2 linked regions of the Homo sapiens genome follow. The protein of the gene in region 2 interacts with the protein of the main gene of each other region in a pairwise test. Each region holds a gene or a part of one and is shown on either strand. Other genes may lie near its edges.

Evidence for each region. Proteins that work in one complex are often made in the same cells at the same time.
Region 1: the proteins of TNFSF12-TNFSF13 (region 2) and DICER1 interact in binary tests that used the Homo sapiens proteins (3 or more experiments, as listed by UniProt).

The regions. Positions count from the first base shown.
Region 1 is NC_000014.9:95,085,698-95,091,529, forward strand, and holds the end of DICER1 (endoribonuclease Dicer), read right to left. Parts: intron 5,669-5,832; coding exon 5,506-5,668; intron 5,413-5,505; coding exon 5,337-5,412; intron 4,967-5,336; coding exon 4,801-4,966; 3' UTR 531-4,800; downstream 1-530. UniProt on the Homo sapiens protein: Double-stranded RNA (dsRNA) endoribonuclease playing a central role in short dsRNA-mediated post-transcriptional gene silencing.
Region 2 is NC_000017.11:7,545,157-7,552,061, reverse strand, and holds the start of TNFSF12-TNFSF13 (TNFSF12-TNFSF13 protein), read right to left. Parts: upstream 3,005-6,905; 5' UTR 2,909-3,004; coding exon 2,750-2,908; intron 2,589-2,749; coding exon 2,541-2,588; intron 1,943-2,540; coding exon 1,867-1,942; intron 1,264-1,866; coding exon 1,210-1,263; intron 1,120-1,209; coding exon 1,084-1,119; intron 1-1,083. Other genes in the region: TNFSF12 (tumor necrosis factor ligand superfamily member 12 proprotein), read right to left, coding at 1,084-1,119, 1,210-1,263, 1,867-1,942, 2,541-2,588, 2,750-2,908. UniProt on the Homo sapiens protein: Binds to FN14 and possibly also to TNRFSF12/APO3. Weak inducer of apoptosis in some cell types. Mediates NF-kappa-B activation. Promotes angiogenesis and the proliferation of endothelial cells. Also involved in induction of inflammatory cytokines.

The DNA.
Region 1 (5,832 bases), on a different chromosome or scaffold from region 2:
GACTAATTTAAACCTACAAAGGAAAACTAAACTTTTTTCTCATTCTAAAAAACTTCTTACCATCTTGTTTCTACAACCAAATGATTCATATTAGTGCTTGGTTTACTGAGTTACAAAAAAAGTTGGGTCAAAAGGCTAAAATGATAGAATTATTTCTTAATCAACAATATTGGAAATGTGTCCTAAAAACCTGGAAGCTGAACATTCTGTCCACCTGCTTTTAGAAAAGCCAAGTTCACCTCAAGAATGTGTCAAACACATCATCTAAATAATCCAAGACCTAGAATGCATCAATCAATGTGACAGAATTTCCAAAAAGCAGATTGGAATTAAGTCTTCAAAAAAGACAGTTGTTACTATATAATTCTACAGGTGGACATGAAGCAGAACTTGGTAAACAAAATTTTATATTAAAATATGCATTTTCATATGATTCACCATGGAATTGAAACATTATAAAGATCATTTCTGCTACCACTATTTAAACGTTATTACCCACTTGAATTGAAAAAAGATGAAAGGACACAAAGTGAACAGACGATAACTTTATTGGAGATTTACTTGGCTACAATTATTACAAAAAAAACAACTAAAGGTAATTGTGATCCATAAGGTGCAGACTGCAAATTTCTGCAGCATGATTACTGTATGAATGAATGACATCATGTTCCTTAAAAAACAGCTGCAGCATGTGATGGTAAATATTTTATTGTCAATCAAATAATATGCATTAGTTTTACTTGATTTTAGTAATTTTCCTTCACTATTTACAGCAGAAAAGCCAGAAATTTACTTCCTGTTCACCTTTGCATTTTTGCTATGTAACCTGCTGCTGCAGTGAATTCTTAGTGCATCTATAAAATTTAAATTGTCTGTGGTTGATGTCCAAATAAAAATGGACTAGAAAAAAAGAAGTAATGATTAAAATATATTTACAAGTTAGTTGTGAAAAATCATTTTCACTGCTAGTGGAAAATACAATGGTCTCAATGCAAATTTCCTAGATATTGCTATTGGCGTCTCCAACAACTTTAAAAATCATTTTAATAGTCTTGGTCTTAAACATATCTTTAAAACTTTTCATGTACAATATAAAATAAAGAAATTTATCTGGAAATAATTAAATTCCTGAAAAGTAATCAGTGGTTGGAAAAATATAATTATTCAAATGTAATTAAAACAACCATATAGGTAATAAACATGACATGAGTTTCTCTTCTGCAGATAATGCAAATGGGTTAAAGACTCTTAACATAATTTCAGATGCAGTTAAAAAAAGGTATCAAGGTCTCAGTTTGGTGGCTTCAATCTTGTGTAAAGGGATTAGACACCCTAACAGAGCAAGATCCAATATTTTAAATCAACGGGGCCTTGTGCATGAACTGCGCTCGATCTGGATTCCAGTGATCCTCTGCAGTGCCCACCTGCCTCCAGGGAGCGACTGAAGAAGCCGACTGCCGGGGGAACACCTGGATTCATGAACCAAAGCAGCCTCAAGTTTCATGTTGTCAAGGCAGGGTATCAGAATCTTTCTGAGGGCAAAGTATTATTAACAAATAAAAATATCAGTATTTTAAAAGACAATTACAGGAGTGTTAGAGGTCATTCTAAATTTCATCACTTCACGTAATATAAAAGAAAAAAGAAAAGAAATATAACAAACATTTTAAAAACATAATTAAGAGTTCAGTTAACAAATCTGTTTCATACTTTCACAAACAGTAAAAATGCCACAGACAAAAATGACCTATTTAAGTTGTGCGAGTATATGACACATTGCAGGCATTATAATTATCTTTTTCAAATTCCATAAATCAAAACAGCAGCAAGGCCAAACCACATTTTTTTCCTCTCTGTTAAGCATATTTTCTTGAAATGAGGTAAAGCATGGTACCAAGTGCAATGCTTATCTGTGCTACATGAACAGAACAGAAGGGAAAAAGCTATTATAAAACGCAGCATAGTTAGGACTGCGGAAAGCATATTATAAAAGAAATTTTAAAAAATTTACAAATGAAGGTTCATGTTAACTAACTTGCACACAATCATCATAAGGAATTTCTGCAGTTGCTTTTTCAAGACACGCCTCCCCAGTCCTTTACACACGTGCTCAGGGCACAACCACACCCCACTGGTAGGTTTTCCATATTACATTCGGTCTCACATTGCAATCACAGGAACACAGGGTGGCACACAGGGCTCTAAAGTGGGGCAACATAGAGTGATTTTTTTTTTCCTTAATTGACAGATGCAAAACATTTCAACAAGCTAAACACAGGAAAACTTTACAGCATTAAAAATCAGCAGCACAAAAGCGTTCATAACCATTTCATATGTCTAACTCGTACTTTTTTATTTTTTAACTCAGTAACCAGGGGATCACAGAATGCTTCAAACTGTGAGTCAAATTAAAATCTACTATTTTTCTCCAACAAAAAGTGAAACGGCTGAAGTTTGCTGTTGATAAAACATTTGAATGGTAGAAGGAAATTTGAACCCCTGAGAATGTATGACCTAATCATGTCTAAGTTTGAACATCTTAGTATTAACAAAAAAATACTCTTCTTAAGGTTACAAATATATTGAGGCATTTTTCTCCCACTGGGAATCATAACTGTGAAAACAATCTGATTTTGGTGCCAGGAATCAAGAGAATCCCGTAACACTGGGATCAATGTATTAGACACAATGCAAAGCCCTAAGCTCCTGGCATCAGGTAGTTTATAAATATTAAGAGATTTGTGATTAAACTTGATCACAAATCACCCTCAGAATAAAATTCACATCCAGCCTTGTTAACTGCACACTTTTACAGTTATATAATTCAAGAATTGCTTTGTTTTAACTGGTCATATCTTACATTAAGGTTTTTTAAAAAATCAAATAGACATCTAAGGTTCCAAATCGGAATTAAATATTTTTAAAACAAGTCACCTAATTTGCTCAAAAACTCGTTTAATAATTTAGATCTCAATTTAAGTTTAAGATTGGAGACAACAAAAAACACTGGAGAAGCTTAATACCCCCCTCACTCAGGGTTCCTTAGAAAGCAGAGCTGACAGTTTTCTGTCGGTGCACTCGCACAGAGGCATTTCTCTGTGGGTGGATGATGCAGATAAAGCAGGAAGGACAGTATTCAAATGTCACTTACATATAAATGCAGCATTCCACGAAGCATCAAGTTCAGAATCATGTGCTGGGAAATATGAGACACCTCTGCTCAGCTTTCTTAAACTTCAAGCATAATTAACGGGGCAAATTGCAGCAAACCTCTACTGGTATGTTGATGGGAGTGCAAGACTGACCCACAGCTTTTAAAAAGGTAAATTAAGAGGTATTATAGTTACAGTGCAAAAAAAAAAAAATTAAAATTTCAAGCATAATACATAAACATAGCACCAAACAGGGGAAAAATGCATGCAAAAGAAAAGAAGAACTGAGGTATTTAAGTGAAGAGTGCCTACAAGTCTAATTAAAGAAACTTAGGCAAATGCCTAAAGAAGTTTTTTTTTTTTTCCTTTTCCAAAGATGGAAATAATGAGCTAGTTTATCTAAATTAATGACCTAAATCACAGATGTATCAAAATTACGGCAGTTTATCGCAAACGTTAAACTTTCACGGCATTAACAGCACAGCTTTGGTAGGTGAAATATGCATGCAACATTATGAAAAGTATAGTAAGAAATTTATGTGAGGAGACTAAGGGTAAAGGTGCTGTGTTTTGCTTCTTAAATAAGTAACCAATCAATTATAAAATCTGCAGCATATTTTAGGTGTGATATGTCTAAGGTTTATTTTGTTAGAGCAACAGCCTAGAAGGCAAAATTATTTGCCATAAACATTTCCATCAGTGGGAACTACCTGGCAGGAGGACTTTAGTAAAATGGGGTGTTTAGCCAAAGATCATTTTTATGATAAAAAATATCCGTAGACTACATATTCTGGTTTTTAAAATGTCTTCAGTATACATATGACAGAAATTTTAGTATGATCCTGTAATAAGTTACAACTATACTAGTGAGTTGTAAGTATCACGCTGTCTCAACGTCTAATGCATAATAAAATGAAAGGAATGTAAAACAGTTTGTTCCAAAAAGATCAGAGATTAAAGACTATCCATGAAGGTTTCACTTTTAAGGCAAGAACCCTTTTTTATGCAAGACTATGTGGCATCAGAAAACTAAAATGTGATTCACCAACATGCCAGCCAATGTTCATTAAAAATCTGTCCCTTACTATCAGGTGCAACAGCGACCGGGAACATCACCTTACACAGTATAACGTGGAAAGAAAAGACAACATTGGCGCACTTCTCCTCTCGAAAACCTTATCTTTCTATTCAGCTTATCAACTACTGCAGGACTGGCACTACTGCACACACGGAGAGATGGAGAAGAATCTACATCATCCTAGGGACTGCTGGAGGTTTAAGCTCCATGGCCTTCTAACACTAAGCAAAGCTGACATAAACTCAAAAAAAAAAAAACAAAACCTGTCAATTATTTTGAGCACTTGCTAAATGTCATCATTAAAGCACTCTTGTGATTTAAACAAAGCAGAAGTGAGGAAAGAAGATAAGATTGTGTTTGCGCAAAAAACTAAAACTACAATTAGTTCCAAAATTTTATACATATGTTAAATGTTTTATTCTGTTATCTATCCTGTTATCAACCAAACTTTAAATTCTGCCTTCAATTCATTCCACTCACTAACAACTTTAAGTCTTCCTTTCCGATTTAAATAATTTTCCCCTTAATTTTTTTTGTTTTGTTTCTTGTTTTGAATTTTAAAAAGCGGTTTCAGCTATTGGGAACCTGAGGTTGATTAGCTTTGAGGCTTCGGAGGGCTCTTCTTGCTGCTGCAGATTTGGCAATCCTGTAACTTCGACCAACACCTTTAAATTTCCCCTTTCCTACTACTTCCACAGTGACTCTGACCTTCCCGTCGTAAGTTCTCTCAGCCGGGCTGTAAAAAATCCAAACAGCTTGAATTAGAAGTCAGAAGTATTTATTATCATTGTCAATCAGCATTTAGTGTGCACTCTCAGGCCAGGAGTCCCATGTATAAGCTGACACCACACAAAGGAAACACGCGTTACGACTTACTGCAATTGCATACCCCCGACAGACAGGGCTGCCGTCTAGTCTTTATTACAGCATTATTTCATAAAAACAGAAGGAAAAAAGAGAAGTCAATCAGATTACAAACAGAAATCTGACAACAGCACACCACAGTGTAAATATTTTTCAGAATCATTAGTTTACAATATCTTTGTGAACTTTTCCCCTTTGATGTTTTTAAGTTAATGTTTTTTCCATGTACATTTTTTGCTTACCTAAATTTGGCAGTTTCTGGTTCCATTTCAAGCAATTCTCGCACAGGGGAACGGGGTACATTTGCAGAAAACTTTTCTGCAATCAAAATGAAAGAATAATATGAATAATATCTCTGAAGTTGTTTTTAATTTTGTGGGTTTTTTTCTTTCTAAAGGGAGCCAACAATACCTATTAGTGGCCGCATCATGGGATAGTACACCTGCCAGACTGTCTCCAGTGACATCCCACTATCCATGTAAATGGCACCAGCAAGCGACTCAAAAATATCCCCCATGGCCTTTGGAACTTCAATATCCTCTTCTTTCTCTTCATCCTCCTCAGATCTCCTAAGCTATTACAGAGGGAAAAGTGACTTGTAAGCAAAAAGGCCACTTTTACAGGCAGTCCACAGATGTAGTTTCTTTTCTTGGATATATGACTTTTGTTACTTCTTTAGTAAGGGGGGAAATACCATTTATGGTATGCCTACTATATTGTAATAGTAAAACAAATGTT
Region 2 (6,905 bases):
GTAATCCCAGCACTTTGGTAGGCCGAGGCGGGCAGATCACTGGAGGTCAAGAGTTTGAGACCAGCCTGGAAAACATGGCAAAACCCCATCTCTACTAAAAATACAAAAATTAGCCAGGCGTGGTGGCACACGCCTGTAATCCCAGCTACTTGGAAGGCTGAGACGGGAATCTCTTGAACCTGGGAGGCAGAGGTTGCAGTAAGCCGAGATTGCACCACTGCACTCCAGCCTGGGTGACAGAGCGAGACTGTCTTAAAAAAAATAAAAAATCTAGAAGTCATCTGTGATTCCTCCCTTTCTTTTATTCTTCACCTCCAACCCATAAGTCAGTAATATCTTCAGGACACAGGCTGAACCCATCCACTTCTCACCATCTCTGCTGTGAACCCCTCGGCTGAGCACTCCTCATGCCTCCCTGCCTCTCACAGTGGAAAGACATTCTGGTGAGGGGGATGGTATGTGCAAAGTCCAGAAGAGGCACACCGGGAGCAGGGGTGTCAGCGCAGCAAACATGAAGACAGCATAAGAGTGCAGGGAAATTAGGTTGAGACCAGACCACGAAGAGACTGGAAGCCATGTAGAGAGCCAATACCACAAGAAAAGTGAAGTTTAGGGGCTCAGCATGGCAGCACAGGTCAGATGGAGTGGAGGGGTAGGGAGGGTGTGGAGTGGGGAAGCAGCAAGAGGCTGGATTTGAGGTTCTGAGGTCACGGTGCTGAGGTAGAGGGTGGGGTAGAAATGGAAAAGATGAGCAGACACTAGCAGCATTTAGAGAAAAAGATCATCAGAACGTGGAATATGGAGGAGACAGAAGAAAAAAGAATGAAAAGTGCTTCTTGGAGAAGAATGAGGGCTGAAGGAGAGAGCTGGGACAGTGATTTGCTGGGGGAACTGGGCAGAGTTCTGGGGAAGAGTAGGGGTCTTTCATGGGGTCCCACGCCTGGGTCACAGAGAGAACCAAGACCTTCATGAACTGGCTTCTGTGGTTCTGAGACTGATGGCCGGGAAGGGAGTGGGAGGTCAAAGGTTTTCAAGGGCCCTTTTCCCAGGAGGCCAGTGCTGTGTCGGGGGATGGGGTCTCACCTGCCTGCGCTCCGTCCTGTCCAGGTCGTGGATGAACTGTAAAGTACAGGAAAAGGCTGGTGAGACCTGCCCTGACCCTCTGCCACCTGCCCCTCTCCTCCTGGGTATGGCTCACCCATCACCCACCTTCATAATGGGCTGCGATCGCTCTTCGAGCCCGTGTTTTCCGGCCTTTAGGTGCTGAGGATCAAGGAAAGACAGATGAGCAAAGCGGGCCCTAGTGGGGGTCCCAGAGCAACTCTCCCAGCCCCATTCCCCTCTCAGGAACCCTGGCATCCTTATTCTTGTCCAGACTCCTGGCCTTAGAATCTCAGGCCTCATCTTCCTCAGTAAGTAGAGTGACTATAATTTGTCATCCACACTGGGATACTGCTGAGAGCAAAACGGGAAGCTGCTATTAATCACACCGAGATAACAGGTGGGGGCCAGGACAACTGCATGCCGACTTGGACACGTGGTCATCCGGCCACCCCATCATCCCATTCCTAAGTCTCTTTGCCTACCGGGGCCCAGGCCTCTGACTGCCAGGCCTAGTCTCCATCAGGATCCCAGTAGTTCTTCTAACTCATGGCCACCCTGCCTTCCTGTTTGGGGTAGGGTCTGAAGGAGCACATCCATATGACAGAAGGAGCTTCAGAGGAGGGCGAGAATCCCTAGGTTTGAGTCTTGGCTGGTTAGCTGCATGACTCTGAACTCCTTTCACCCTCCGTGCCTCAGTTTCTCCCTGTGGATAATGGTTTTTGCTCTGCCCGCTTCCTGAGGTTGGGATAGAGGGATGCTCACCACTTCTGCGAGGCCGAACTAGTCGGTTCAGGAAAGGCGCAGGATCCTGGCTTTCTTCTGTCTGGGGATTCAGTTCCTAGGGGAATTAGGGCAGGGTTCAACCACAGACTCCCAGAGATATAAAGTGAGACATACGGGGCCTGTCAGGAGAGCCACCAGCCAGCAATAGACACAGAAGTCAGGGACAGATTAAGCCCCTCAGCCAACTACAGCTGGGGCCCCGGGCAAAGGTGAAGCTGGGAGTCAGGCCCCAGTCCTCACCCTTTCCTCTAGACCAGCTACACTTTCCCACCCACACACACAACCAACGCAGACCCTGCATTCAATTGGCACATTGCACACATGCCCGCACCCAGTCACCACGCACAGAGGATACACACCCTGTACACAACCGCACCCCTCTTCCACGCAGACTCACATATCTTATACAACCACGTCACCCCCAGCCAATAAACACCTCAGACTCAGGTGGCACAACCCCAGCACAAACCCCTCACACAGAGTTGTCACCACGCACACACACCCCTGCAGACACGCACCCATGCACGCACTGTGTTCACACACACCCTGCACACACCTCGAGTACGGCTGGCACAGCTGCACACACCTGCAGCCTCGGCTGTGCACACTTCCCATGCCCCAGCAGCCTGCAGACCGCGCCCACGCCCACTCACCGACGGGTCCTGGTCCTCCTCTGCCACCAGCTCCTCCTGGGCAGGCTCCTGCTGGGAAGGAGGGAGCGTCACCCTGTGCCGCTCCACCTGACATCTCACCCTCCACCCATCCTCCCTTCCCCTTGCCTTCAGCCCACGCGGCCCCCAGCGGCCCCTCTGCAGTCTCAGCTCCTGATGTGCCCAAGAAGGGGTGCGCAGCGGGGCCTCACCTGGGCGGACAGCGATGCCCGGCTCCCCAAACTGACCACGGCCAGCAGGAGGCCGAGGCAGGCCAGCGCCAGGCCCAGGCCCAGCGCGAGCGGGACCAGCAGGGCGGTGCCCGGCTCCCCCCGGCGCCCCCTCCGCCTCTGGCTCCGACGGGCGGCCATGGGGGCGGGGGGCTGTGCCTGCCTCACCGCCCCCCCATCCCGGGACCCGAGGGATCGGGGGAGGGGGAGCCGGCGGGCGGATCGGGCCGGGGAGAGGGAGGGGCAAGGGAAACGGGGCGGGAGGGGGCGCTGGGGACAGGAAGCCGGACGCTGTGTGTGATCAAACTCCGAGCCTCTCGCCGGGCGCTGTGCGCGCAGCGAACGGAGTGGGCGCCCACCCGACCTCTGAGCGCCCAGCCCGGGCGTGCACCACCAGGGCGAGGTCCGTTGCGTGCGGCCGCGGGAGCGACGGGGCTATGCGTGTGCGGGCACCTCCTGCGGGGAGGTGGGGAACTCAGGAAGGCCTGTTGGTTCAGATTCTTCTGTGTCCCTGTGTCTTCAGAGATAAGGACCCTCCTTTCCCCCAGGTGCAGGGAGGGCGCCTCTCGCAGGAGGCTGTTATTTGCTTCTTCAGGAAAAGGGCAGGGAGTTCCAGGTTGTATGACCTGGTTCAGGGAAGAAGGGCAGGAGAAGGTAAGAAAGATCCTTCGGCTTCTGCGGTTTTCTCAAATTCCTTCAGCTTAAAACACTCACTGTGCCGGTAGCACGTTCTGAAGCCCATCATTACCAATGATTGCCAAGCATCTGAGGAGGACCAGCAGCATGCAAAAGAAACACCAAAATTGGTCCGGCAGGTGGCTTACGCCTGTAATCCCAGAAGGCCAAGGCTGGGGGCCAGGAGTTCAAGATCAGCCTGGGCAAGAGCAAGACCCCATCTCTACAGAAAAGTTTTAAAAAATTAGCCCACGCCTGTAGTCCCAGCTACTCAGGAGGCCGAGGTAGGAGGATTGTTTGAGCCCAGGAGTTTGAGGCTGCAGTGAGCTGTGATTGCACCACTACACTCCAGCCTGGGCAACAGACCTTGTCTCAAAAAGAAAGAAAGAAAGGAAGAAAGAAAGAAAGGAGGGAGGGAGGGAGGGAGGGAAGGAGGGAAGGAAGGAAGGAAGGAAGGAAGGAAGGAAGGAAGGAAGGAAGGACCAAAATTGGCTGGGCGCGATGGTTCACGCCTGTAATCGCAGCACTTTGGGAGGCTGAGGCGGGTGGATCACGAGGTCAGGAGATCGAGACCTGCCTGGCCAAGATGGTGAAACCCTGTCTCTAATAAAAATACAAAAAAATTAGCCGGACGTGGTGGCAGGCGCCTGTAGTTCCCAGCTACTCGGGAAGCTGAGGCAGAGAATTGCTTGAACCCAGGAGACAGAGGTTGCAGAGAGCTGAGATCACGCCACCACACTCCAGCCTGGGCAACACAGCAAGACCCTATCTCAAAAAAAAAAAAAAAGAAAGAAAGACCAAAATTAACAAACAAAATTTGACATTGGAGGAAACAGAGATAATTCAGGATACAAAGAGTACTACCTAATATACTTAAAGAGAGTCAAGAAAAAGCATCCATAGAGCTGGGCATGGTGGTGCATGCCTGTAGTCCCAGCTACTCAGGAGGTTGAGATGGGAGGATCACCTGAGCCTGGGAGGTTGAGGCTGCAGTGAGCTGTGATCACACCACTGCATTCCAACACGAGCAACAGAGTAAGACCCTGTCAAAAAAAAAAAAAAAAAAAAGAGTATGCAAAGAAAGAAAAGCAGTTAGAATCTCCAGAAAATTTTCAAAACTGAAATCACAATGTAAATAAGAAACAGCTGGGGCCAGTTGTGGTGGCTCACGCCTGTAATCCCAGCACTTTGGGAGGCCAAGGTCGGTGGATCACAAGGTCAGGAGTTCAAGACTAGCCTGGCCAAGATGGTGAAACCCTGTCTCTACTAAAAAAACAAAAATTAGCTGGGCACGGTGGCGGGCACCTGTAATCTCAGCTACTCGGGAGGCTGAGGCAGAGAATTGCTTGAACCCGGGAGGTGGAGGTTGCAATGAGCCGAGATCGCATGACTGCACTCCAGCCTGGGCGACAGAGCAAGACTCCATCTCAAAAAAAAAAAAAAAAAAAAAAAAAAAAGCAACAAAACAGGCTGGGCATCATGGTGTGCACCTGTAGTCCCAGCTACTGGGGAAACTGAGGCAGGAGGATCGCTTGAGCCCAGGAATTCCAGGTTGCCATGAGCTATGATCTGGGCACTGAACTCCAGCTTGGGCTGCAGAGGAAGACCCTGTCTCAAAAAAAAAAAAAGATAATAAATAAATAATAAAATAAAAATAAATAAATACGGGCAGGGCATCATGGCTCACGCCTGTAACCCTAGAGCTTTGAGAGGTTGAGACGAGAGGATCTCTTGAGGCCAGGAGTTCAAGACCAGCCTGGGCAAAATAGTGAGAACCCCTTTCCATCTCTACAAAAAATACAAGAAAAATTATCCAGGTGCGATGGCATGCTCCTGTAGTCCCAGCTACTGTGGAGGCTAAGTCAGGAGGATCACTTGATCCCAGGAGTTTGAGGTTGCAGTGAGCTATGATCACCCCATTGAACCGAAGCCTCGGCAGCAGAGTGAGACCCTGTCTCTATAAAAAATAAAATAAATAGGCCGGGCACAGTGGCTCATGCCTGTAATCCCAGCACTTTGGGAGGCCAAGGTGGGTGGATCACCTGAGGTCAGGAGTTCGAGACCAGCCTGGCCAACATGTAGTGAAACACCATCTCTACTAAAAAATACAAAAATTAGCTGGGCATGGTGGTGCACGCCTGAAGTTCCAGCTACTTGGGAAGCTGAGGCAGGAGAACTGCTTGAAATAAAATAAATAGGCCGGGCGCAGTGGCTCATGCCTGTAATCCCAGCACTTTGGGAGGCCAAGGCAGGTGGATCACGAGATCAAGAGTTTGAGACCAGCCTGGCCAACATGGTGAAACCCTGTCTCTACTAAAAATACAAAAATTAGCCGGGCATGGTGGCGCACGCCTGTAATCCCAGCTACTCGAGAGGCTGAGGCAGGAGAATCACTTGAACCTGGGAGGCAGAGGTCGCAGTGAGGCGAGATTGTGCCACTGCACTCCAGCCTGGGCGACAGAGTGAGAGTTCATCTCTCAGAAAAATAAAAATAAAAAATAAAATAAAATAAATGAAACACAAGCTATAACACAACATAATTGTATTTAATTGATACAGTATCAATTTAGGGCCTTAGTGCTTGCTTGCCACATTGTCCTTTGAGTGACACATGGATTATGGGATGGAGTGTGTGGAGAAGCAAGTGTAATTCCAGCCCATTGTTTGGCCTGAGGGTAAACAACGTTCATGTGGCCATAATAATGTAAATATCTTTGACTGGATTTCAACTTTTAGAGTCAACCTGTAGAAAAATCCAGAAGACTTAATGGCAGCAAAGACTGCAAATGCCCACAATTTTCACTTTTTTTTTTTTTTTTTTTTTTTTTTTTGAGACGGAGTCTCGCTCTGTCACCCAGGCTGGAGTACAGTGGCACAATCTTGGCTCACTGCAACCTCTCCCTCCCAGGTTCAAGTGATTCTCCTGCCTCAGCCTCCTAAGTAGCTGGGATTACAGGCGTGCACCACCATGCCTGGCTAATTTTTGCATTTTTAGTAGAGACAGGGTTTCACCATGTTGGCCAGGCTGGTCTCAAACTCTTGATCTCGTGATCCACCCGCCCTGGCCTCCCAAAGTGCTGGGATTACAGGCATAAGCCACCGCGCCCGGCCTATTTTTTTTTAAGATGGAGTTTCACTCTCATCACTCAGGCTGGAGCGCAATGGTGTGATCTCAGCCCACTGCAACCTCTGCCTCCCGGGTTCAAGCGATTCTCCTGTCTCAGCCTCCTGAGTAGCTGGGATTACAGGCACCCACCACCATGCCAGGCTAATTTTTGTATTTTTGGAAGAGACGGGGTTTCACCATGTTGGTCAGGCTGGTGTCGAACTCCCAACCTCAGGTGATTCACCCGCCTCAGCTTCCCAAAGTGCTGGGATTACAGGCGTGAGCCACTGCACCCAGCCTCTACTTGATTTTTATTATCAGGTGAATGCAGCATTTTAATTTGTAAAAAGAAAAAAA